Homo sapiens: one gene and its partners. The protein of the gene in region 5 purifies or fractionates together with the protein of the main gene of each other region. This does not show direct contact. Each region holds a gene or a part of one and is shown on either strand. Other genes may lie near its edges.

The links.
Region 1: the proteins of MAGEA10 (region 5) and NRIP1 purify together in Homo sapiens (affinity purification with mass spectrometry; 4 studies listed by BioGRID and IntAct, with this or other methods). This does not show direct contact.
Region 2: the proteins of MAGEA10 (region 5) and PES1 purify together in Homo sapiens (affinity purification with mass spectrometry; 4 studies listed by BioGRID and IntAct, with this or other methods). This does not show direct contact.
Region 3: the proteins of MAGEA10 (region 5) and ZZZ3 purify together in Homo sapiens (co-immunoprecipitation; 3 studies listed by BioGRID and IntAct, with this or other methods). This does not show direct contact.
Region 4: the proteins of MAGEA10 (region 5) and POU2F1 purify together in Homo sapiens (affinity purification with mass spectrometry; 3 studies listed by BioGRID and IntAct, with this or other methods). This does not show direct contact.
Region 6: the proteins of MAGEA10 (region 5) and KAT2B purify together in Homo sapiens (affinity purification with mass spectrometry; 4 studies listed by BioGRID and IntAct, with this or other methods). This does not show direct contact.
Region 7: the proteins of MAGEA10 (region 5) and SLF1 purify together in Homo sapiens (affinity purification with mass spectrometry; 4 studies listed by BioGRID and IntAct, with this or other methods). This does not show direct contact.

What each region holds. Positions count from the first base shown.
Region 1 is NC_000021.9:14,967,501-14,971,000, forward strand, and holds part of NRIP1 (nuclear receptor-interacting protein 1), read right to left. Parts: intron 1,027-3,500; 5' UTR 693-1,026; coding exon 1-692. UniProt on the Homo sapiens protein: Modulates transcriptional activation by steroid receptors such as NR3C1, NR3C2 and ESR1. Also modulates transcriptional repression by nuclear hormone receptors.
Region 2 is NC_000022.11:30,581,911-30,585,410, reverse strand, and holds part of PES1 (pescadillo homolog), read left to right. Parts: intron 1-693; coding exon 694-865; intron 866-956; coding exon 957-1,046; intron 1,047-3,500. UniProt on the Homo sapiens protein: Component of the PeBoW complex, which is required for maturation of 28S and 5.8S ribosomal RNAs and formation of the 60S ribosome.
Region 3 is NC_000001.11:77,676,159-77,679,658, forward strand, and holds part of ZZZ3 (ZZ-type zinc finger-containing protein 3), read right to left. Parts: intron 1-3,500.
Region 4 is NC_000001.11:167,227,386-167,230,885, reverse strand, and holds part of POU2F1 (POU domain, class 2, transcription factor 1), read right to left. Parts: intron 1-3,500. UniProt on the Homo sapiens protein: Transcription factor that binds to the octamer motif (5'-ATTTGCAT-3') and activates the promoters of the genes for some small nuclear RNAs (snRNA) and of genes such as those for histone H2B and immunoglobulins.
Region 5 is NC_000023.11:152,135,778-152,140,061, forward strand, and holds the start of MAGEA10 (melanoma-associated antigen 10), read right to left. Parts: upstream 2,801-4,284; 5' UTR 2,698-2,800; intron 1,193-2,697; 5' UTR 1,094-1,192; intron 304-1,093; exon of another isoform or gene 213-303; intron 58-212; 5' UTR 1-57. UniProt on the Homo sapiens protein: Not known, though may play a role in embryonal development and tumor transformation or aspects of tumor progression.
Region 6 is NC_000003.12:20,123,946-20,127,445, forward strand, and holds part of KAT2B (histone acetyltransferase KAT2B), read left to right. Parts: intron 1-1,959; coding exon 1,960-2,168; intron 2,169-3,477; coding exon 3,478-3,500. UniProt on the Homo sapiens protein: Functions as a histone acetyltransferase (HAT) to promote transcriptional activation. Has significant histone acetyltransferase activity with core histones (H3 and H4), and also with nucleosome core particles.
Region 7 is NC_000005.10:94,691,669-94,694,894, reverse strand, and holds part of SLF1 (SMC5-SMC6 complex localization factor protein 1), read right to left. Parts: intron 2,822-3,226; coding exon 2,639-2,821; intron 2,339-2,638; coding exon of another isoform or gene 2,331-2,338; exon of another isoform or gene 74-2,330; intron 65-73; coding exon 1-64. UniProt on the Homo sapiens protein: Plays a role in the DNA damage response (DDR) pathway by regulating postreplication repair of UV-damaged DNA and genomic stability maintenance.

The DNA of each region.
Region 1 (3,500 bases), on a different chromosome or scaffold from region 5:
CTCATGACCTTTGTTCCACTTTGTCCAACATGATGAGGAGACTCTGCAAACCTATCTCTGATGAGGTTTTTAGTCACATCAGGAAGATTCGTATCAGGCTTTTGATCTTTAACTTTACTTTTCTTCAACAAAGTTTTTAAGTGACTTGATGCAACACCATAGCACCTTAAATCCTTCTCCACTTTTAAAGAATCATGACTGAGGGCATATCCTTGCTCCTTGAGGCTCTGCCTGATTTGTTGTGACAGAGCAACAGTCTGCAGCCTAGAGCTGAATGACTGAAGCAAAGAGGCCAGTAATGTGCTATCCTGTTTGCCTTTAGGCACACTGTCAACCATGCCAGCTAGCAAAGCTTCCTTCTTTACGTTTAAATTCATGATAGAATCAGACAGCCTCTTCCGCTTTGCTGCATTCCAGTCCTCAGAAGACTGCAACAGTCTGGCTTTTTTGAGGTGCAGCATGCCAGACCCCTGATATGTATGTGTATTGAGAACTGGACCATTACTTTGACAGGTGGGAAATGCACTGCCAGAAATGTTAAAGTTCTGATCCTCTTCATTATGCCCAGCAGACTTTTTGTCAACGGCAGTACCTGATCCCCCTGCTGCCTGATGCATTAGTAATCCTTCTAGGTAAGTTAAAACAATAGAATCCTGGTGCACATCAGAGCCAAGCTCTTCTCCATGAGTCATGTTCAATAGAAGTGTTCACAAGGGCTTGGTTTCTATTCACTTTAAAGAATGGTTTTCTGTGGTGAGTGCGATGTAACTTTAATAAAGGAGTATCAGTTTATCACCTTCCATCGCAATCAGAGAGAGACGTACTGTTACATTCTGTCCAAGATTTCTTCTGGCAATGACAAGATAAATGCAGTCTGACCACAGTGCTGATCAACTTCTACGCAAGGAGGAGGAGAAGAATTCCTTAACACATAGGTCTGTAGCAGTAAGCAGATAGAATCCTTAGTGAATATATTCCTTTTCCTTCTTCATCTTTTGTTCCCCATTAAATGCAAATATCAGTGTTCTAAAAAAAATAAAAATAAGAATAGTTAAGGAGGCAGAACTAGAATCACGTTATGATACCTACAAGCAAAATAATATAGCATCTGTAAATGTATATATATATTACATATAAATAATAGACATATAAATGGATTATAGTCACTTTAGTAATTTGTTTTATTGCCGTTCCTATTCAATTGAAAATGTCTACTGGAAATCCTGTGGGTTAATGCATACTGTTAAAATGATCAAATCATTAGAGAAGAGAACATACTTTAATGTTACATAGCCATCTTCCAAAGCCGCCAAGTCTCTGAATTTTCATAAGCACCTTTCTGCAAAGTAATGTGAATGTTCAGTCTCCTTTATAGCTTTATAGCTCTACAGGGGAACTAGAACTTGCTTCCTTACATTACTGGGCACTTAGGAAGAAACAAAAGTAGATGTGCAGAAAAAGGAAAAGAGATGCAGACTCTGATGAGTCTGATGTGGGGTTGAGGCCAACAGAACAGATTCATTTCTGACATCATCCCCCAAACACCAGACATTCCATAAGTAATTTTTAGAATTTCCGTTTTCAAAAAAATGAAACCACTAACAAGTTGAAGATTATTTTGTGAGTCTGTTCAAAGTGTGACCATCTTAATCATATTCATAAACATTAAAATACAGTCATAAACTTACCTACCCATACTTTTTACCATGACTTATTAAAGACAGAGAGGAGTGATTCTTTAGATGCTTGTTCAGGGCTATCAAGGGTTTAATGTAGTTCGTTAGTAAATCCTTACTCATGTGCTCTATGGAGAAGTCTTAATGTCAGGTCCATTCCTTACAGATACAGAAGACAGGGAGGGCATAAACATATATAAAAAGTACAATGGAGAATGCCAAAGACATTTTAGTCACAGTTTGAAAAATATTCCAATGATATTTATTATCTAAGAAGAGACCAAAAAATTTCCTATCACTAACACATACACAACAGAAGAAGCAAGAACTCATTGCATTTCTGAAAACTTGATAGGTAAGTGTCAAAATTGACCTAAGGAAGGGGGGCCATGACACCTTTGGAAGAGAAGCTGGAATAAATTCCATGCAGTTTGTTTTTCAAGATGCCAGAACATTTTGTTTAAGTTATCAGACCTGAAGCTATCAACAAATACCTTGGTCCCTATGGAATTTAAAAGATAAATTTTAATTGAAAGACTACCCTGTAGCTTTTTAAGTACAATGCTTAACTCTAAGTCAAACTTTAGGAAATAATTATCTGATTGTATCAAATTGTTGAATTTATTGATTAAAAGGATAAGAAATGATAGCCAAAGAAAAAGATACAGAAAGGAGGCAGCAACAATTAATTTCAACTGTGTAAGGAGTAGGATGAGAAGAGACTTTCTTGAGATTCCAATGCCACCATTTTAAGAAGCTTTGCCATAATGTACTTAAGATGGATATTTTAAGAGGTTAATAATGATATAGAAATGAAATGGTTATCATGACTGCCACCAAATATCCATTCTCCCATTTTCATTTACTAATAAAACCCTGACTTGTTTTTCAGGGAGTAGGGAGGTATCCCAGCTAAACACTACTTTTCTCCCCCCTCTGGTTATATTTTACAATTGATGGCATGTTGCTTAATTGGAGGCTTATTTTTCTTTCTTAGTGGTATAAAACATACGGGTACATTTTACAACTGATAACATCTTGGAGTTGAGGAAACCCAGTTTTCTAATTCTCTCAAAAAACTTAATATGGCCAGGTACGGTGGCTCACACCTGTAATCCCAGCAATTTAGGAGGCCGAGGTGGGTGGATCGCCTGAGGTCAGGAGTTTGAGACCAACCTGACCAAAATGGTGAAACCCCATCTCTAGTAAAAATACAAAAATTAGCCGGGTATGGTGGCATGCGCCTGTAGTCCCAGCTACTCAGGAGGCTGAGGCAGAAGAATTGCTTGAACCTGGTAGGCAGAGGTTGCAGTGAGCCGAGATCGTGCCACTGCACTCCAGCCTGGGTGACAGAATGACACTCTATCTCAAAACAAACAAAACAAAAATAACAACTGCTAATATACAATTAATTCTCAACTAGTTAAGACATTTAACAACCATTTAATGGGATATGCAAGTCCACTGTATTTCTCTCCACACCACTGCCAACCTTTTTGCTCTTGGGTAGACTCAAGAAAGTCAAAATCATACCAGTCATTTGAAAACTGGTTTGTAAACAGCCATAAAACATACTTTATTTAAGAATAAGAATGAAATAAGGAGCATCTTTGAGTTCATATTACTCCTGTTATTGCTTTCTACTTTTTACTGTGCATGATATAATTTGCAAAGTATTATTCATTGCTTTAAAAAGACTGAATTTACACATTTCTGAATTTACAAAGCAGATTTGGAAGTTGATTTAAAAAGGAATTATCACAGTTTCCTTGTAAAGGAGCTCTAACACTGTATTTTACCATTTATTTACCTCTCTACCATTTA
Region 2 (3,500 bases), on a different chromosome or scaffold from region 5:
CCGTGTCTTCTCTGTGACCCATGCCTCTGTCCCTCAACAGGGCAGCCACACAGTGCCCAGGGTGGCTCATCCTTGTTGGCTTCGTCATTTACCAGAGGATTCCCCGAAACACATTCTGCTCTGGCTCTTCCTGGACCCAATTCCCTGGGTCTCATTGGTTCTGCCAACTAGACATGTCCAAGGGATGAGAGGCATGGAAGACATAACCTACGCTGGCGACCGGTGGCCAGGCCCAGTCATAAGTGCTGCTGAGGGGAAGCAGCCCCCACCCCGCTCCCTGCTCCACCAGGGCAGCTTCGGTTTCCCATTTTCCATTTTGGACCTCCCTGTAGAGTGTCTGTGCACTAAAGTTTCCACCTTCAAAGAGAGTCATAGAGCCCCTGACTCCGTCTACCGTCGTGCACCACAAAATCCGCACGTGGGTCAAGGCTGGGTCTTTGGTGAGCATTCGGTGTCTTGAGGACCCCCATCGGGACTTCTCTGGTCCTCAGAGCCTAGTGGGCGCATCCTGGTTAAGTGGTTCCTCCTAGGGGCTGTGGTCAGCTGTGGGGAAGCTGCTCCTGCCAGGTCAGGAGGTGGCAGTGGTGAGGCCTGGCTTGAGGAACGGGGCATCTGGGGTGGGATAAGGAGATCAGGGTCCCCCTTGGCACCCACGCTGAACAGGCCCCATGTGCTGCCTCACTGGCCATGCAGGTATCCCACGTTCATCGATGCCCTGCGGGACCTGGACGATGCCCTCTCCATGTGCTTCCTGTTTTCCACCTTCCCGCGGACTGGCAAGTGCCACGTGCAGACCATTCAGCTGTGCCGCCGGCTCACTGTGGAGTTCATGCACTACATTATCGCTGCCCGTGCCCTGCGCAAGGTGAGCCTGGGACTGCCCGGCTGGCATCCCACCCTGCCCCCTCTCCTGCCACCCCATGGTCTTCACCCAGATGTCTCCTCCTCTCCCCTAGGTCTTCCTGTCCATCAAAGGCATTTACTACCAGGCCGAGGTACTGGGGCAGCCCATCGTGTGGATCACTCCCTATGCCTTCTCCCATGACGTGAGTGTGCCTGTCGGGAGGGGACGGGCTTGTGCTGCCTCCTAGACAGATATGGATGTGGAGGAAGGGGGATTTTGCTGTCCATGGAGTTTAGCAAGTGCTGGGTTCCCAACTGTTGATGAGGGGTGAGGCGCGGCAGAATGTGCCACACAGCATCCTCATTAAGAGCGGGAGCCTAAGCTAGCCCTATGGCAGCACCTGCCAGCTGCGTGCCCTTGGACGTGTTCCTTTCACCTCTCTGTGCCTCAGTTAACAGTGTCTACACCCTTAACAGTGCCTGGTGCTTGGCCTTTTAGGGCCGAATAAACAGTGAGAACAGCTATCAGGGCCATACCCAGCCTGCATGCCCAGCACCATGTGGTGCCACCACGGGGACAGTGGCAGAGCCCTGCCCTCGAACCTACTGGGCTCCTCGTCCCTGCTTTGCTGCCGATAGCTGCCAGACCTTGGCCAAGTGGCCTTGCCTCCCTTCTCTGCTTCCCCCTTCCTGCCTCTCTGCCCCACAGGACTCGGGGACTGGGAGAGAAGGGGAACGGTGAGCACAGGAGAAGCACTTAGCATGTGGCACTGTTTCCTACATATATTGTTTTCTTTTTCTTTTAAAATAGAGATAGGGTCTCACTATATTACCCAGACTGGTCTGGAACTCCTGAGCTCAAGCAGTCCTCCAATCTCAGCCTCCCAAAGTGCTAGGATTATAGGCGTGAGCCACAGAGCCCAGCCTTTTTCTTTATCTCTTTGAAATCCTGGGAATTGTTGGCAGGGATCCACTGAGAGAAACCCTGGTTTTGCCCTCTCATGGAGCTTCTAGTGCCCCGCAGGTGGGCCAGGCTCTCCTGCCTCCCTGTGCTGGTGGCCTGCATTTAGCCCACCTTGCTTGATCATTGAGTGGGAACTGGTGCCTTCAGCGGAGAGCAGCCGCTGCCGGTCCAGTTAGCACAGTGGCTCTGCTGCCCAGATTATCAGGGGCTCCAGGGGGAGCTGGGACTCTAGGTGCCCTGGGCTGTTACTTATGATCCCTTGTGGGTGGGGTTGCAAGGACTGGAACCTACCCTGACTGGCTGTCTGGTGGTGAGGCTGTGGCCTGTTTGCGAGTGAGAGGCGGGCTTGGCCCTCAGCAGTCCCTGTTCCCTCTCCCCCTGGGGCACGTGTGGGTGGCCCTTCCTTCTTCCCTTCCCCAGCCCTCCTCTCCTCCTCCTTCCTTCCTGCCTTCCTCTTGGTCCTTCCTTCTCTCTGATGTCCTGCCCCCATGCTGCTCAGACTGGTCTTTGTGTGTCCTCCCTGGTGGTGAATAGGGCCCTGTGGTGGGCCGGCCTCCACACAGCTGGCCCTGGGGGAAGGGAGCCAGCCACGCATTCCCCTTTCCTCCTTGGCCAGTTCACTGCCGTTGCTTCCTCTCAGCGGATGGGGAGGACTGGCACTAGGTCGTAGCGGAGCCCAGTTGTGCCCCTCCTGTGAGCAGCCAGGGTTGGGTTCATAGCTGTGGAACTCAGGCTGGTTGTAGGGGCGGGGTCTCCCTGCTCAGTGCTGGGCTGTGGGAAATGGGGTTGGTCCCCAGATGTGCCTGTCAGGGGCCCTCACAGATTCTCATGGAAGGATGGCGGTGTGAGTGAGGGAACAGGCAGGGCTTCTCTTGGCCCTATGTGCTCTCACAGCACAGGTCACTGTCTGGCAGCAGAATAGCGGAACAGCTAAGAGTCATGGGCACACCCGGCACCCATGGTGATCACTACTGATTTTCACGTTGCTCGGAACATCCTGCCGCGTCCTGGGGGCCAAATGGGCTGGCTCGGCCTCCATGGTTTTAGGGGGCAGAACTGCTCAAGAGTTGTGATTCTGTCTGGGCCTCAGTTCTTTGCCCTGTTTTGCCCTATTAACTGCTCCAGGGCAAAGATGAGCCTTCTGTGTCCCCTGCTGCTGGGATGACAGCTCTGTGCCTTTTCCCTGAGCAAAAAGTAGTTTTGTCTGCTGGCCATTTCCCAAGAGCTCCCTGGGGGCTGAGCCAGGCCAGCTGCCAGCCTACCCTGGCCCCTCGGGTCATGCCTCTGGACCTGGCTTGGGCCCAAGGAGGGAGTCACTCAATTCTGAGTGTCCATCCCAAGGTTCAGAGGTGGGACTCAGTGGGCGGCCTGAGCCCCATGCTTCCCCCGCCCCCGCTGGGCCTGGCCTTCCCAAGGCACCTTAGTCAGCCAAGGTTTTGCCAGCCCCTCTGGGCTAGAGACAGCGCTGGGAGCACCACCCTCTGGTGCTCACACGCTAGCCCAGCAGCAGACATGCAGCAAAGATTGTAGACTAGGTGATGTAGAAGGCAGGAGCTCTGGCCAGGTCGGAAAGTGGTCTGTCCGAGTCTGAGCTAGACCTGAAGGAAGTGGGAGAGCCGGAGCAGGGAGGGGAGGGCCAGCCAGTCTTCGGAGCAGCAGGGACCAGGGTCCCTTTTCTCACTCTTTTATGGGG
Region 3 (3,500 bases), on a different chromosome or scaffold from region 5:
ACTGTACTTGTTGGTTGGGGGTTTTTTGACAAGGGTCTCACTGTGTCACCCAGGCTGGAGTGTAGGGGCGCAATCTGGGCTCATTGTAGCCTCAATCTTTTGGGGTCAAGTGATCCTTCCACCTCATCCTCCACAGTAGCTGAAAGTACAGGCGCACGCCACCACACCAGGCTAATTTTGTGTATTTTTTGTAGAGACGAGGTCACACTATGTTGCCCAGACTGGTGTCCAAATCCTGGGCTGAAGCGATCCTTCCACCTCAGCTTCCCAAAGTGTTGGGATTACAGGCATGAGCCACTGTGGCCAGCATAGTACTTTTAAGTAGTTTCACATTTTATCTCTGTTCAAAAAGGGGGAAATTTTCATTTAATGCAACCAAATTATGTGGTATGGAAAAATCTTATTTCAAATTCTGGCTGACAAGAAAAGGAATTATAAAACATTGTTTTGTTAAAAAATAAACTTTATTATCCTCAACTTACAGTAATCTTAAAAATAAATAAGGAAACAAACACCACAATAAGAAAGCCAAGGCAAAAGATATTAAACATATCACAGAATCATCTAAAAACAATATGAATGTTCTTAAGGCTTGGGGTAAAAATAAACAATTTAAAATAAAAATGATTAAAATGTAAAAATGAAGCATAACAAAAAAATGAGAAAAATTAAAAAATTAAATAAAGCATTATTTAACAGAGTTGAGAAAATTACCAATTTGGAGGAAAACATTTAGATTCTCATTTCACACCAATGCCAGATGAGGTAAAAACTTAAATTTATTTAAATCTAACTTAGAAAAACTAAACAAACAGAATTAAACCAATATTGTTTATTACAGTTCTGAAAAGGGAGGAATTTCATAAAATCAGCAGAACAAAATTATATCAAGATGTTTGGGCCAGGCACCGTGGCTCACCCCTGTAATCCAGCACTTTGGGAGGCCGAGGTAAGTGGATCACCTCAGGTCAGGAGTTCCAGACCAGCCTGACTAACATGGTGAAACCCCATCTCTACAAAAATACAAAAATTAGCCGGGCGTGGTGGTGTGCATCTGTAGTCCCAGCTACTCAGGAGGCTGAGGCAGGAGAATTGCTTGAACCCGGGGGGTAGAGGCTGCAGTGAGCCGAGATGGTGCCACTGCACTCCAGCCTGTGCAATAGAGCAAGATTCTGTCTCAAAACAAACAAACAAAAAGATGTTTGACTGCAATAATGTTAAAATCTATTTATCTTCAAAGTTCACAAGATAAATACATCTATAAACATGCTTCACCTCAGTAATTAAATAAATAAAGCACAATATGTCATACACCCCCATTAAACCTTTATAAAAAATGTTAAATGTTGATGAGTATAGGGTAACAACCACTCGAAAGAGAATACAAATTTATCCCTTTTGATTAATATTGTTCAGTATGTTTTAAGAGCCTTCAAAATGTACCTAAAAAATCAATTCTGGCAATATACAAGAGAGAGATAATACTATATACAAGAAACATGTATAAATATGTTCTTCACATAGGGGAATAACATATGTTCACTGCACAGAACATTTTACAATCATTTATAATGATAGTTATTAAGATGCATTGTGAGAATGGGAAAGTGGTACCTAACAGTAGGTTAAAAAGCAGGACATGAAATTAAATGTTTTTACCCACAAATACATAAAAAATATACATTAAAATAATGGAAGAAATATATCAAAATGCTAATAATTGTTATATTAATTCCCAAAATCTAATTCCTCAAACCAGCTTTCAAAATCATTAAAATACATACACACCCCTTATACACAAGTCAAAGACTATCTACTTTACCACTAATGGAAGCATAAGGTTTAAATTAACATAGTAAATGAGACAGAGGAGGCCAGCAATGCAATGAAAAAAACTCACTACAAAAACCTGGCACCTTAGGACACTTGGGCTAATAGACTCAATACCAGGATTCAAAACTATACAACTGAATCATATGCATAGGTCATTTACTAATTCTAATTATCTGCTTTACTATCTTCTCCATTAGCAAATGTGCTAATCTTTAGGCAATTGGTTGTTCATTACTGATATCAAATATTAAATGTAATAGAGCCTTGTTTGGGAGTAATTCCTTGAAATATTAAGTAGAAAGATAAATAGGTTAAAATAATAAAACAAAGGAAGTTCCATACACAGTAGCACCATTTTTATTTGGTGTCATCTGATAAGGAGAGATCTACACGTAAATTTTCCAGAAAATTGAAACTTAACATTTAATTAACAGAGTTTTGAAAATGGTTACTTTTATAGCAATCTCAAAAGACACCAATTTCTTACTTCCTTAAACATAGTACACAGAATAAAAGTTCATTATTAAAGTTATCATTGTGATGCATCAACTTACTAGGCTGCTCTACGATACTGTCATTCCTTCAGAAGTTAATGATTATAGGAGTGTATGTATTTATGTAATGGCCTTAAAACACTATTCTACTATAGTTCCACCTACTTTTTAATAGTTCTTCCTTTTCCCCTGTAGATGACATTTCAGCTGCCAATGTCCCTAACTCCAATGGCCAACACTGAAGATTTTTATCTGTGGACTAATTCCAATTAGTAGTTTCCTAATAAAGGCTAATGGCTTATTATACTTGGTTGCAGTCATTTTGAAGGCTTAGAGATTTTTTTATGTCCAGGATTGCTGTTATGTTTCAAATGGCTGAGGTCATTAGCAATAAATGTCAGCTGAATTACTGCCTCTAACTTACAAATATACTGAAGTTCCAAAACAACAGTAATAATAATATCTGAATAGTTTGATTAATCACAAAGTGATATTCTCCTCAAGGCAAGTTAGTCAACTCACTCCTCTCTAATAAGACAAAAATTACCTACATAAATGAGAAAAATCAGCTGAAAAGAAAAACAGAAAGGTGAGAACGAAAGGGTCAAACAAAATAATCAAGACTTTGGACTTTGGGAAATATTTACTGAGAGTGGTTTTCAGAGTACAATTATAGTGGTTATCAGAGCATTAACTACAGAAATTTGCACCAGAGTATATACCAAATCTCTAGTAAATACTACTATAAAAATGAAACTCTTCTAGCAACTATTTCTTGTAGGTGACTCCAAACTGAATTTTCATATGAAATTTAGGTGTTTTTATTTTATTTTTGACACAGGGTCTCACTCACTCTGTTGCCCAGGCTGGAGTGCAATGGTGCAATCACAGCTCACTGCAGTCTCAACCTTCTGGGTTCAAGCAATCCTCCCTTCTCAGCCTCCCAAGTAGCTGGTACTACAGGCGTGCACTACCAGGCTAATTTTTTTTCTTTTTTGGTAGAAACGTGGTCTGACTATGTTGTTGCTGGTCTCAAGCAATCCTCCCACCTCGGCCTCCCAAAGTGCTTGTATTACAGGCGTGAGCCACCAGGCCCAGCTTAAGGTAACTTAAAGTTACAGGTCTGTGGAAATTGGCATGGTGTCAGACCTTAAGGAAAAAACTCAAGTGAGA
Region 4 (3,500 bases), on a different chromosome or scaffold from region 5:
TCACCCCATGGTGACAAAGATTGAGAACCACTAAGTCCATCAACCAAGCATTCATTATTTGTTAAATGTCTAGGCCTACTCTGTCCCTACCAGTATGTTCCTGCACTCAAGGCTCTTAGGACAAGATTTACTTACATAATCAATTAGAGAAGAAAATAGGACTGTGTATAATGAAGTGCTGAATTGGGTAACTGAACACAAATTAAGTGCTAATTTCAGAGAAAGTATGACAGGAGCTCAGATTTGACAGATGGCTATTTGTGGAGATAAAGAAATGGACAGACAGGTCCCTTAAGATAAATAAGGACAAAAGTTTTCAAGTCATGACCAGCAGAAGTCCTAAGGACCCTGTGAAAGTGCCTCAAAAGCTACTGTGGAAAGGAGGAGGAAAATGCTTTTCTTGCTCCAATATCCAATTTTAATCAGAACAGCTCCACTTTTGCCTTTAAAAAAGAACACCAAAGGCTTTTAAAAGTTTGAAATCCCTTATTTTACAAATGCAATTAAAAAAAAAATCCATGGTGAAGTAACTTGTCCTAAAGTTACTAAGCTAATTAGTGACAGAGAAGCCAGGTCTCTGAACCCCCCAGTACCTTTTTTCACTCTACCATACCATACACCATGGCCTTCCAATGGAGGAAAAAGTGTGAGTAAAGGTTCTCACACAACGTCCCAAACACACTGGCTTGACCAAAACACTGGGTACACATTCAGGTCATGTGTCTCAAACTGGGATTGGTGTTGCAAGGATGGTAATGGGAGAAAGGCTCAGGTAAGTCTCAGGATAAATTATAGCCATCCTCCCAAGATAGATCTTCAAATTTTAGGGAAATTTCTTTAAAAATTAAAATCTGATAATATGCTGTATTTGTGGTAGAAATGGACAATAAGGGAACTTCCTTGATGGAATTGTTGAGTCATGCTATTTAAGGAAGTAGTAAAGATAATAATGCATAGGCAAGGGTAGGGGCTAGATAACAGAATGCCCTGAAATCAAGGTAAGTTGTATTTGCTACAATGCAACACCTCCACTGTATAAAGTTTTCAGAAGAGTATTAGGAGTGTCCATTCCTCCTAAGATGCTGGCTGCACCAAAAAATGAACAACCTACAGTCAGGTGCCCCACAGAATCCATCGGCTGCTAAAGCTTCTGCTTCTCTACAGCAGCACAAGTAATAAAATTCCTGATTTTACTCCTGTGCTCATGTAAGAAAAACTATTACAGAGTTACTTTAAAAATGCTTCTGCTATCAATTTGATACTCCCCACAGCATCCCTCTAACACTGGTATTATCACCATCGTATTGTTGAAGGAAATAACCTTAGAAGACAGTGCCAAAGCCAAAATGAGATATCTAGAATTTACAACGTTCAGATTCAATACTCAGTCCACACGCACAGTGGCATGAGCATAAATTTCAACCCTAGTATTAATGTTTATCAAACATTTAATTCACTAAAAAATTTTCAATTTTCACAAGGAATCTACAACCCAATAAGACCCACCCAAACATGTCTCAAATGACATGTCAAAGTGAATTCACTGACTTACTCCCCAAATGGCTCCTTTTCCCAACATCCCTACATCTGCTTATGGTAATGCTCTTTTCTGGATAACCTAAACTCAAAACCTTGATAATCTCTTTGCATCTAATTAGCTGCTAAACTTTAAGGGCTCTGATCATGGCACTGTCCATAACAAAAAAAAATTAAAAAAAAAAAATTCAGTGACTTCCTACTGCCTAGCAAATAAAATCCAAACTCTTACACCAACACAAAGGATTCAGAGCTCTCCACAATAGAGCCCCAAAGTGCCTTAATACACAGCCTAAATAACAACTAAGCTGGAAGTCTTGCTATTACCCACACTTAATGCTTATAAAAACACAGGACCTTGAGAAAGTCACTTAATCTAAGTTTTATTTTACTCGACTATAAAATGGGTATAGTAACGCTTGCCTGAAAGGACTAACTGAGGTAATGAAAATGAGAATGTGGCTATAAATTTTAAAGTACTATAAAAATACAGACATTATCACTGTGCCATGGTTATGGTAATATTATTTATACCTGCCTTGCTCCAGAAAGGATGTAAGGTGGCCCACATAAAACAAGATAAAAAGAGTTTAAAGATGGAAGCAATACAAGAAATACAAAACAAATGCATGGACAAAAAATTGATCTACTAATCAGGCTAAGAAATGCAAACGTAATTGCCTATGCATGTGCTTCTCAGGTTAATAATCTGACCTAAATTTGACCAAATCAAACTGTAGTTTGATTTGAAAAGGAAACTAAGTCAATTAGACAATTCAGTGTCCATAAGACTAAAAACAAATAGTTTCTACTGTAAAGGCCAGGTAAGAATTTCTCCCAAACGTCCTTATTCCATGTAATGTAATTGGACAATATCCTCAACACCTTTATCACGACTTATCTATTTCATAAATTAGACTGGAAGTCTCTTGAGGTCAAGTAATTTTTAAATTATGTTTGTATCTCTAGTAGCACCTACAGTAATTAGTTAATAAACCAAATACCTCTATACACTGGTTTCTATGGATCTAATCTCTCCCTTCCTATTTCAAACCATCCTGCACACCACATTACTCCTAACACACCATTTTTATCACATCAGTCCCTATTTCAAAATCCTCCAACAGCTTTCCTGCAGATAGAACAAATGCTTCCTCATTCTTTACCTATACATCACAATGTTGAACACAATCTCCCCTTCAATGGCCTTCTCTGTATTCCCATTCCTCTAAATTCTTTTTGCCCTTTAAAGCTCGGTTTAAAAGTCTCGCCTTCTACATAAAGCCTTCTCTGACTGACAGCAATGGGGCAGGAGGAGAGACTGGGAGGTGGGAGAAAGTTAGAAGTCTTGTGTTCTTATCTGTTACTGAATAGTTAAGTGACTGTGAGCAAGTCACTAAACCATTGTGAAAATATTTCCTCATCTGTGAAGCAAAACCTTTAGCAAAGATTATATCTAAATTACCTTCCAGCTATAATATATTCTAGGATGCTCTGGCTCTTTCAAACTTGGACACACTCTGATCTATTCTCCAATCTTCATTATCTGTTACATATTTTAATATGTAATTATATACACTGTTTTTCAATTTTTCCTGCTTAAGTAAACATACCAACTCCTCCGCAGCAGTCATATTTCCTTGTTATTCCCAAAGACTACAGGCATAGGACCAGGTACATAGCAGATACCTTTTATAGACTAGGATGGTAACTACTTTAAAACATTAATTATAATATTGCTTGCTGCAGTATGAATCAGCCAAAAAAGGCTGTATTTTTCATTAAGCAGACCACTAAAATAAGTGTACTAAAACAAGAAAACACCTAAGTCACTTTTCCATATAAAAATATATTCCCTTTAAGGTATCAGTGCAACTCCATTAAGGTAATCATATGTTTAAGCACAAATGAGTCGTTTAACACACAGCATATTGTTCATTTTCCAGCCATTCCTGTTTATATCT
Region 5 (4,284 bases):
GCTGCTCTGTGGTGTCCCACAGCTCTTGACCTCTTGCTCTCCCTGTCCCCTGAGAACCTGAAGAAGGAAGTGAGAGATGGCTCCTCAGGATGCAGCCGGCAGAGGCCAAGGCTCCAGGACTGACAGTAGGGTAGGTGGAGCTGATGCAGTGGGGTCCACTTTGTCCTGGAGCAGGTGGGGCCCTTGGTACACATTCAGGGCATGCACCTCACCTTGACTCCTGGCACTGTCTGGGCCCTTTCTGCTCTGTGACCTGAAAACACTGCCTTAGACCAAGGCCTCACCTCACAGTCCCTGGAGCTCCTGAAAGAGGAATTGAGGGGCCCTCAGGGTTCAGGCTGCAAGCACAGCCCCAGCCTCCCAGTGTTGTCAGGAGGGTGGGCTGGACTCTGTGAGTTCCCCACTACCCTGGGGTGGGGAGCCTCTGTGCTCACGTGGGGCTCTCACCTTTCTCCTGGAAAAGCCTAGACCCTGCTCCTTTGCTGGTCTAAGAAACTCTCAGATCAAAAGCTTACATCCCTGATACGAAATAGAAGACATGAGGGGACCCACATCTGGCCACAACTGCAGAGGTCCTCCCAGAAAAGACAGCAAGAGGTGGCCATATTCAGCTGGGTCCATGTGTACTGGGGTGAGGAGCCTGCTTGGTCCTCTTCTTGATGCCTGATACGACCTGGGACCCTCCCTTTGTTGATCTGAGGCCACTTCCTTAAACCAAGGTCCTACCTCCAGGAGACATGGAAAGAGGAAGTGAGGGGAGTCCATCTACCCCCAGTTCCCCATGAATTCCCGTGGCTGACAGAAGGGGTAGGGTGGGGCTGAGTCCTGTGCGTTTGGAGAATGGTGTCCCCTCAGTCCTCACCTTGACTCCTGGCAGGGTCTGGGACCCTCCCTCTGCTGACCCGAGTGCAGCTCCCTTAGACCAACACCTCTCCCTCCCAGAGACCAGTGATCCTTGTATAAGACAGGGAGACTCAGCGGACAGCCCTGACTGGGTTCTCCAGAGTGACAGTAGGGTCATGGCAGATTTCTGTGGGGACCCCATCTGTGTTATGGGCTGGGGGTACCCTCAGATTTCCCTCAGGTTCCTTACCTGGACTCTTGTCAGATCCTGCGACCCACTGTGTCTGTAGAAAAGAGGGGTTCCCTGTGTTGACTTGAGTCACCCTCTGAGAGCAAGGTTCTCACCTCCCTGAGATTCCAAAACAAAAGTAAGAAGGAGCCACATCCTGTCATCCCTGTGGGGTGTCCAGGGCTGATATCTCCCCTTTACACCAAAACTCCATTTCCCTGAGGGTTCCTCATCTTCCTGCCTGTGGTAAAATTGAGCTTGCCACTTAGTGCCAATCCTGATCAGGTCCCCTCAGAGCTAAGAACAGGGGACAGCCAGACTCTGTGACATCCCTTCTTTCTGGGCTGCAGGTACCTCCAGTCCTCACTAAGGGGGCACCCCTTGGGTCCTGCAGATTCTGGGACTCCTCCCTCTGTTGACCAAGTGTGGAACCCTGTAATAACTTCTTAGCAACCCTCAGACCAAGGTCCTCACCTCCCTGAGACCCGGCAGGCAGAAGTGGGGAGGGGCACCACACGATCACACCTGCATGGGATTCCCAAAGCTGACAGAAGGAGCAGACATTTGGCGGGGGGGGGGGGGGGGGTGGTGGGCAGGGGAGGGGGACAAGACGGGGACTTCCTTTATTTGGGTGTCCTCCAGGTATTCAGATTTACTCCCGACAGGGCCCAGCCCTTTCCCTCCTGCTGAATCGTGTATGGGTCTTGCACGCCAAAGCCACCATCTCCCTGGGATCCCCGGTGAGAAAGTGGGGGCCACTTCTCTTCCTCACCGTCCTGCCTGGGGTTCCAGAGCTGATAAGAGGGACAGATTTCCTAGTTCTGAGATGCGGGGATCTGCTGAGTCCTCCCTCAGGGCTCTGGGACTCCTCCCTCTGCTGACCTGAGGCTCCACTCCTCAGACCATAGCCCTCTCCTCATTGACACCCCAAAGGCACAGCAAAGACACATCACATGGGCCACCGTGCCTGAAACCACCCAGGGCTGAGGTCCCCACTGATCTGGACTCCAAGGTCCCTTGAGTCCTTTCTCTTCTTCCTCCCCTTGACTCTTGGCTGGGTTGTTCTCCTCTACCACGCCCCGCCGCAGACCTGAGTCACCGTCCCTTGGATTCCTCAGGCCGAGTGAAGAGACATCTCGGTCTGAGACAGAGGTGGGGTGGGCACCCTGTCCTGGGATCCCTTCATGCCTCCCTCATTTCCCAGCAGGGCCCGGGCCTTCCCTCTGCTCCCCTGAAGCCGCATTCTTGGTACCAATATCCCCTTCCCTACGTCAGCCTCAGATGCCGACGTCAGAATTTGCGTTCCTGGTCGCCATGACCAGGGCTTCCCAGGGCCGACATCAGGGGCAGAGCCCTCCCTGAGCGTCCCGACATTGATGCTGGCAGAACCTAGGCGCGGCTCCCGCCGAACCAGCCGGGCCCTGGTCACACCAAGCTCTGACTCCCAGAGTCCCCTGCGGCTTAAGCGGCGGGAGAGAGTGGGGGCGGGGGTGGGGGGGGGGTGACAGCCCAGCCTGAGAAGTCTGCCCTCAGGTGGTCCAGAGCTGGCAGCAGAGGCAGCGCTGTATTATTTAGGGCTTTCTATCTGGGTTGGGGGCGTCCTCAGTCCTCCCTCAGCCTCTCACCTTGCCTCCTCACAGAGCCTGGGCCCGCTCTCTTCAGCCGATCTCAAGCCTGTCCCTCAGAACGAGAACCTCGCTTCTCTCTGATCCCCGAGGCGTAAGTTAGTGGCGTCACATCCGGTCCCCGGGGCTTCCCTGGGTTGACAGCAGGGGCGGAGTGGATTCTGCCGGAACTGGGGTGGGAGTTGGGGTGGGAGTGAGGGTGGGAGTCCGGGTGGGGTGGGGTACGGGTGAGGATGGGGTTGGGGCAGGGGTGGTGGTGAAGATGAGTGTGGGGAGGGGCGTGGAGGTGGGAACTGGGATGGGGATCTTGGGGCTGTGGGTCGTGGTGGGGGTGGGGGTGGGGTCTTTCAGTCATCCCTCAGTGTCTCGACCTTGATGCCTGGAAAAGCCTGGACCCCTGTTTTGTGCTGAGGATGTCTTCTCCCCTTAAACCAGGTCTCTTGACTCGGAGTCTTCCAAGGTGGCAGTGAGGGGAGGGTTGTGGTAGGGGTGACAACATTGCCAGGGTCTTCCAGGGCTGACAAGAGGGGCTCAGCTGGATTCTGTGGCCCCTTTGTGAGGGGTGGGTGGACCCTCGGTCCTCACTCAGGAGGGTCTTCCTCCTGGCTTTTGTCTCTTTGATGAAGTGATGGGTGGGAGATGCTCAGTTTCCGTCACCTCTGATCATTTGCCCAGCTGCATCCCTTGCAGAGCATGGGTGCGGTTCCCAGGCCAGATGGTCCCTGGGGAGCTGCAACACCCGTGATTGTAATGACCTATGGGAGAAGACGCACACCTTCCCAACGGGGCTCTTCCCAAGCCACAAGTAGACTTGGCAAACTTTTTGTCCTAAAGGGTATATTTTCTACAAGAAAGAGGCTGAGCATCGGGGTGTGGAGAGGTCCTGCTGTTTTGAGTTTAGCTGATATTTTATAGTCCAATGCAGTGATGTCTGGTTTTCTAACCCTCATTCCTAGTAAAAATATGTGTTTTAAATGTCTGCCAAGTGTATATTGAATACATATATAACATTTCATGAAAGAATACCTACCTTACGCTGTGTGGTTCACTGCTTATTCTATTTCTGGTCTATTCTTTATATTCTATTATAATAATTTTTCTCTTTTTTTCTGAGCAAGAAAATTTAATATAAAGAATTATTAACTTGTAGCAGAGGATCAACTAAGACCAGTCGTCACTGTGGTGGTTTTAGGTGGTTAGCAGCATAGACTCCGGAGTCATACTCCCTCAATCAACCCCGTCTTTCCTGCTGTCCTGATATCACTCCAGAGCTACTGGGCTACTGGCATCGTGGTATGAAGTGTTGCCTCAGATTGTGCAATAAAGCAGGGCCAGAAATTCAAATATTTCTTCCTACTCGTCCTCTTATTTGCCGTCTATGCAGGCTGCGGACCTCCGCAAATGCACTGTTGTCCTCCACTCCCCCTACTCCAAACACAAGGTCCAATTCGAAATTCTGCAGTCTGCTTAGGGTTCTATCATGTTTTGCTGTGTAGAATTTGTTGAGTGTTGATAATGTTTTTTCCCTTCTCCCCTCCAGGATTGATTCTGGAGTGTAAGTCAGCAATATGAACTTGATGCTCATTT
Region 6 (3,500 bases), on a different chromosome or scaffold from region 5:
TGACAGCTTCCAGGAAATGAAGAAATGGCTTGGAGATTATATTACAGTGTTAATTTTCAATTTGTCATGTTTCTTTAAATATTTATTTTATGACATTGAGGATACTTCAGAGAACCAGAATGTTGTAATAGAAAAATCTCTTCCTAAAATTGATCTTTCCATTTCCTCCTAGATGTCCAGTCTGTGAGGGCTTAAGACTATAGTTTTTTAGGGATTTAGTAACATTACAGATTAGCTGAGTTTAGGTTTTTTTCAGCTATAAAATGGGGATTTGTACTAGTCTATTGCATTGCTACAAAGAAATACCTGAGACTGGGTAATTTATTTTTTTAAAAAAGAGCTTTAATTGGCTCACAGTTCCACAGACTGTACAAGAATGGCATCAGCATCTGCTCAGCTTCTGGGGAGGCCTCAGGGAACTTATACTCATGGTGCAGGGTGAAGTGGGAGCAGGCACATCACATGGTGAGAGAGGGAACAAGAGAGTGAGGAGGAGGAGCCAGACCCCTTTAAACCACCAAATCTCATATGAACTAACTGAGCAATAACTCATTCATCAACAAGGGGATGGTGCTAGGCCATTCATGAGGGGTCTGCCCTGATGATCCAACACTTCCCACTAGGCCCCACCTCCAACATTGGAGATTGCATTTCAGCATGAGATTTGGAGGGGTCACACATTCAAACTACATCAGGATGCAGTCACATGTTTGAAAATATTTTGGATATATTAATATTTAGTAGTGTACTAGAGCTGGCTTGTACTGGAATGCACAAGAAAATTGTTAAATTTTCAGGAGTTTTGTGAGCTGGTTGTTCCATATGTTGGTAGCTTGAAGTTGACTAGCATGGCACCTGGTTACCTGGATAGCCAGTTCTGGACTAATGAGATGAAGTGTCACCAGTTAGGGCCTTCCTTCCTTGAAGAGCTGTTTGTGGAGCATCTACTTGCAAACCACTAGGCAGATTAAATAAGATGGGGAGCATAAGTGCTGGCACATGGTTGTGCTTCCAGCTATGGTTGAGTGTAGGTCAACAGATATTCTCTGGAAAGAAAACTGTTCTTTAAAAAGAGGTGTTAAGAATATATACATGAGGCCGGGCGCGGTGGCTCAGCCTGTAATCCCAGCACTTTGGGAGGCCGAGGCGGGCAGATCACGAGGTCAGGAGATCGAGACCATCTTGGCTAACACGGTGAAACCCCGTCTCTACTAAAAAATACAAAAAATTAGCTGGGCGCCGTGGCAGGCTCCAGAGGCTGAGGCAGGAGAATGGCATGAACCCGGGAGGCGGAGCTTGCAGTGAGCTGAGATAGCGCCACTGCAGTCTGGCCTGGGCGAAAGAGCGAGACTCCGTCTCAGAAAAAAAAAAAAAAAAAAAGAATATATACATGAGTGCTACTATTGGGCCTGTAATGAGAATTTGAATCTGTCATCTCAAGGGTCCTTAAAGCTCAGCTGGAGAGGATTCCTTGAAGCCAGAGGTTGGCAAACTATAACCCACAGGCCACATTTTGTCTGCTTACTGTATTTTTAAATAAAGTTTTATTGGAACAGTACTGCACCCATTCTTTAACATATTGTCTGTGGATGCTTTTGCATTATAGCAGAAGAAGGAGTAGTTGTGACAAACACCTTATGGCTCACAACGTCTAAAATATTTTCTATCTGGCCCTTCACAGAAAACTTTGCTGGCCCCTAATCTACACTGAATATCATCCGTGTACACATATAATACTCCAATTTCTCAAAATGCTTTACCTGCCTTTTCTGTCTTGTCTTCATAACTTGTATGTGTATGTGTCTCTGTGTGTATGTGTGCACACATGTGTATTTAGGACTCTGAAAATCCACAAATGTGTATCTTATTAGAACAAAGATGAGAAGCTTGGATGTGTCCCATCCCCACTGTCTTGAGAGAATAGCTCTGTGTAATTTTTTCCTGTCTCTTGCATCTCAGACCAATTTTCTGTCAGCACACTCGGCCAGGGATGAGGCGGCAAGGTTGGAAGAGCGCAGGGGTGTAATTGAATTTCACGTGGTTGGCAATTCCCTCAACCAGAAACCAAACAAGAAGATCCTGATGTGGCTGGTTGGCCTACAGAACGTTTTCTCCCACCAGCTGCCCCGAATGCCAAAAGAATACATCACACGGCTCGTCTTTGACCCGTAAGTGGTACTTTCTGTTCCTTCTTCCTTATTTCCTTTTTAAATGAAAGAGGAACTGCTTAGATAGTGAAAGTCAGCCATAGTCATCCACCGAATACTACTGCACCTGTCTTGCTGTGGATACAGAGCTTCACCAAGCTGATTTTCATGTCTGAAAGTGCTAAGAGTAATTTTCAACAATTTACAAATTTTCTTGTTAATGATGATGAAACTTTATATTTTACATTGCTGATGACTCTCCTGTGCTTCATTCTTTATAGCAGTGAGAGAATGTAACACTAAGATGTTCTGCTTTCTTCATAATCAAAATATTGGTTTTGGTATCTTAACTAGGTGCCATTATTGCCCAGGTCTGTGGGCAATTATTGGGATATAAGACAGGTTAACTTTGAAAATCCATTGCTTAAAAAAAAAAAACAAAAAACTAGGCCGGGCATGGTGGCTCATGCCTGTAATCCCAGCATTTTGGGAGGCTGAGGTGGGAGGATCACCTGAGGTTGAGAGTTTGTGACCAGCCTGACCAACATGGAGAAACCCCGTCTCTACTAAAAATACAAAATTAGCCAGGCCTGGTGACACATGCCTGTAATCACGGCTACTTGGGAGGCTGAGGCAGGAGAATTGCTTGAACCCAGGAGGCGGAGGTTGTGGTGAGCCGAGACCGTGCCATTGCACTCCAGCCTGGGCAACAGAGCGAAACTCCATTTCAAAAAAAAAAAAAAAAAAACCCACGAAACCCTAAAGAACTAAACTTCTCTAATTGAATTTATTTTAACATACATAGCCCAGTAGCCTATGGGGACTGTGATCCATGCCTGTGACAATTCAGAGTGATGCTTTAGACAGAGGGAAGGATTCCATAATGCGGAATTTTGCAAATTGTATATGTAAATTTTAAATTCTTTTTCATAATGTTTCTGTAATATTTTGGAGTAAGACTTAACTCTTCAGAGACACATACCATGTTTGTCCATGACTTCCTGCTCTCCCTGACCCCTCCTTGGCACTGGCTGTGCCAGTTCCAGAGCACCTCTGCACATACTCTGTTCTCTATTTGTAAACCTCAGGCACTTCTTAGGTGACTGGTATTTTGTTCTGATGGGAGTGCTGATGACATCTTGTGCAGGCGACCTAGCTCTAAAAAGTTCAGATAAAAGGATGGTCTAGCGAGATAGGGGCTACATGAAGGAAGTTTCTATAGAAACTTAGGACATGTCCCTCTTTCTTAGTTGGTTAATAAGGAACACCCCAAAAAGTATATTTATATAACTAGGATAGGTAAAACTTTGACATAATCTTATTCTTTCAGGAAACACAAAACCCTTGCTTTAA
Region 7 (3,226 bases), on a different chromosome or scaffold from region 5:
GGTGAAACCACATAATCCAAGGGCAATTCTCCCTTAGCATTCCTCTGTTGTAAAAGCACTGGGCCTGTGAAAAGAAAATGCAAAATGTTGCAAGTAAAACATTTCTATTTTGGCAGCTTAACAGCTCTTTTCTCCTTTTTCCCAAAGCATCCAGTGCTTTCTTTGCAATCATATTTTGTATTAATTCATGTCGACACAATTAACTGACTATATATATAGACGAATAAAGGTACATTAAAAAAATTCTAGTCAATTACCTAATAAGGTTTCCCCAAACGTGCATGCCTCCGTTAAATAAATAATAAATACAACTACAAATAAAAACTTTTATAAAACTTTATCAACTGTCATTTTAAAATAAGAATTTCAGTGTTCCCAGAAGAAATCTTAAAAATGTATTATTCATCTTATAAATTCTATACAAGAGCCTCAGGGGTATCTCAAAATATCACCAAGAGGAAAAAGTAGTGCCCCTTTCATTGCTAATAAACAATTCTAGCAGTGCAAAGACTACAAAACCTTGCACAGATAGAGAACAGTTTTCATATTACCCTTGCTTGTGTTCAATGTTTAGTACAGGTAACTGGTTCACACAAATTACATATTAATTCTTCTAGATCAAACTCAGATCTCATCCATCTATACTAGTTAAACTCATTTAACTACCTACTTAGAAAGTACTAAAGATAGAGTTTATCCACTAAGTACTAAAGGATGATGTGGAGAAGGCAAAACATAACTCAGTATTTGGTTACATAGCAAAGTATAGGAGTACTTTTGCCTTCATCAGTCAAGTCTTATAATTATTTATGCACTTGGCCATAAAAACGTTACAGGGGATATAAAGATTTTAGTACTAGCAGACATAATCACTAGGTCCTACAATTATAACATAGATCATATTGTCAGAAAGAGAGAACTGATTATAACTGCTAAAATTCATAATGATGACTCTGATCAGACATACATAGTAGCATAGATATAAAATGTACTTAATATAAAAGATCAACCATTGATAATATGATTAATGTATAATTTATGGAAAGAAGATAATTCTAAAACAAAATTAGGCTCCTTTTCACTGTGCCAACATCTCAAAAAAATTGTTCCAAGTTACTTCTGTTTAAAAAAAAAAAAAAAGACAAAATTACGGACACAGGATACCAAAAGTAAACAAACGTTTTAGAGAAATAAATAAATTCTTGAAATTATTGCTCTTGAGGCTGAGTGACTCACAATGAATAGATAATGCAGTTACTTCAATATAAGTGTCAAACCACTTGACAGGTCCAAACCCAGAATATGACTAAGGCAGAAACAAGTCTGTACGACTGCCAAAGGACCTTGATAAAAACAAAAACAATTAGATTTCCTCTTCTAGGAGGAGAAACTCATCTCTTTACTATTCTCCACTAAGAGCCCTAGAAAAATTCACATTGGTTGGTATAATGCCATACTCTACTGAAGAGCTGGACCTAATACAATAATGGCTCCTAACAAATATTGGCCTGAATGCCAGACACACGGCTGAGTAGAAAAATAAAACATTAAGGAGGTAGAACTTATGGTTTAGTAAACACAGAATACTAAAAAAAACAAGGTAGAAGAACTGAAAAACATTGACTATGAAATGATATCAGTAAAACAGACACACTAAGGCCTTTAGGGGGCAGGAGAAGACTATATATAACCAAATGTCTTAAACTCCCATGCTATACAGCCTTCCTTAGATGCATATATACTAAAAAGACATCTTAAGAAAATACGCTTTTTGTCTTTATGCACAATCAAATGTTTTAATTACAGGATAAGATAATGTTAAATTTAAATGTAAAATTAATACAAATAAAAACGACAAGTAATTTCTACAAATCTTTGTTTCCATATTCTAAGCTGGTCATCAGTTTTCTTTTTTTCTTTTAAAAGCACCAATCCGTTTTGAACATTTTGTTGTAAAATTTATATTATTCAGTTTAGATATAAGAAGAATGACACTGAAATAATGTGGGGCCTTGCTGAAAGCAAAGATCAAAAATCAGCAGGAAAAACGCAGATGAATATTCAGCTCAAGTTACCTCCTTCACAAAACCCCTGCATAACAGTTATCACCATTTGAAAATCCTCCTGCTTTAACTTAATTGGCTGCAAAATGTGAATGACGAAAAATATTCTAGGATATCATTTTTTTACAGTCTGTACAGAAATGACTCATTAAAAATAAGATTGAGTTTGTAGTTACATACAGGAAATGAAAAAATCCAGGTAATCACAATTGAACATTTATATCCATTTATCAATAAGCTTTCAGAAATGACTGGCTCACAAAGACATTACACACCTGAAGGAAAAAGATAAATATTTAAAACCAGCAAACTCAATTCAAAAACAGACTCTCATACACGAACCTAAATAGGCTTAATAATATATACATAAACAAATATACATTATGAAAAGGATTTTATCTCTAATAATAAAAGGTGCTTACGTTTTAGGAGACTTTTTATCCTTACTTTTTCATTAATATGAAATAAAGGCATCTTTCCTTACAGATTTTAAACATAAAATGCTATCTACCTCTGCAGGATTCATCAAAAAACTGGATAATTTATCAAAACCCATTTAGCATAAACACACTCACCCCCATGCTGTAGTAGCAGCTTGCCAATTTCTACATGTCCGTTTGACAGTGCATCATGCAAAGGAGTCACCCCGTCCACTTGAGTGAGCAGATCTACCTCTGGACAACGTTGCAAAATTTCCTGGACACACACTGTGTTGCCATAGTTACAGGCTTCATGCAAAGGCGTCCAGCCAGCATTGTCTAAATTAGAAATCAAGGCAAGTTTTAAAACAGCAGAAGTAGGACTTTTGGTAGAAAAGTACTGATGTTCTACTTTTCTCATCAGTGTGACTTTCTAGGTGCTTCATATACAAAAAGAATGCTGTGATAAAAATGTCTAGGGTGTAATCATATTTCTACCTTAAAAAATTAAAATAAAAACAATTTTAAAATATTAATGTTGGGTATTATCAAAATATGGACACCAAAAAATGTTTTTATACCATTAGTTATAAATCAATATATGAGAAATTTCTTGGCTTTGCTAAGAAATTTTTCTTATACTTTTAAGATACCTTAGGTAAATTTACTTAAATAATTTTTCTTAATGTGATATAAAACTGTTTAATATCACAAATATTAAGACATTGGACTAGACCACAAAGA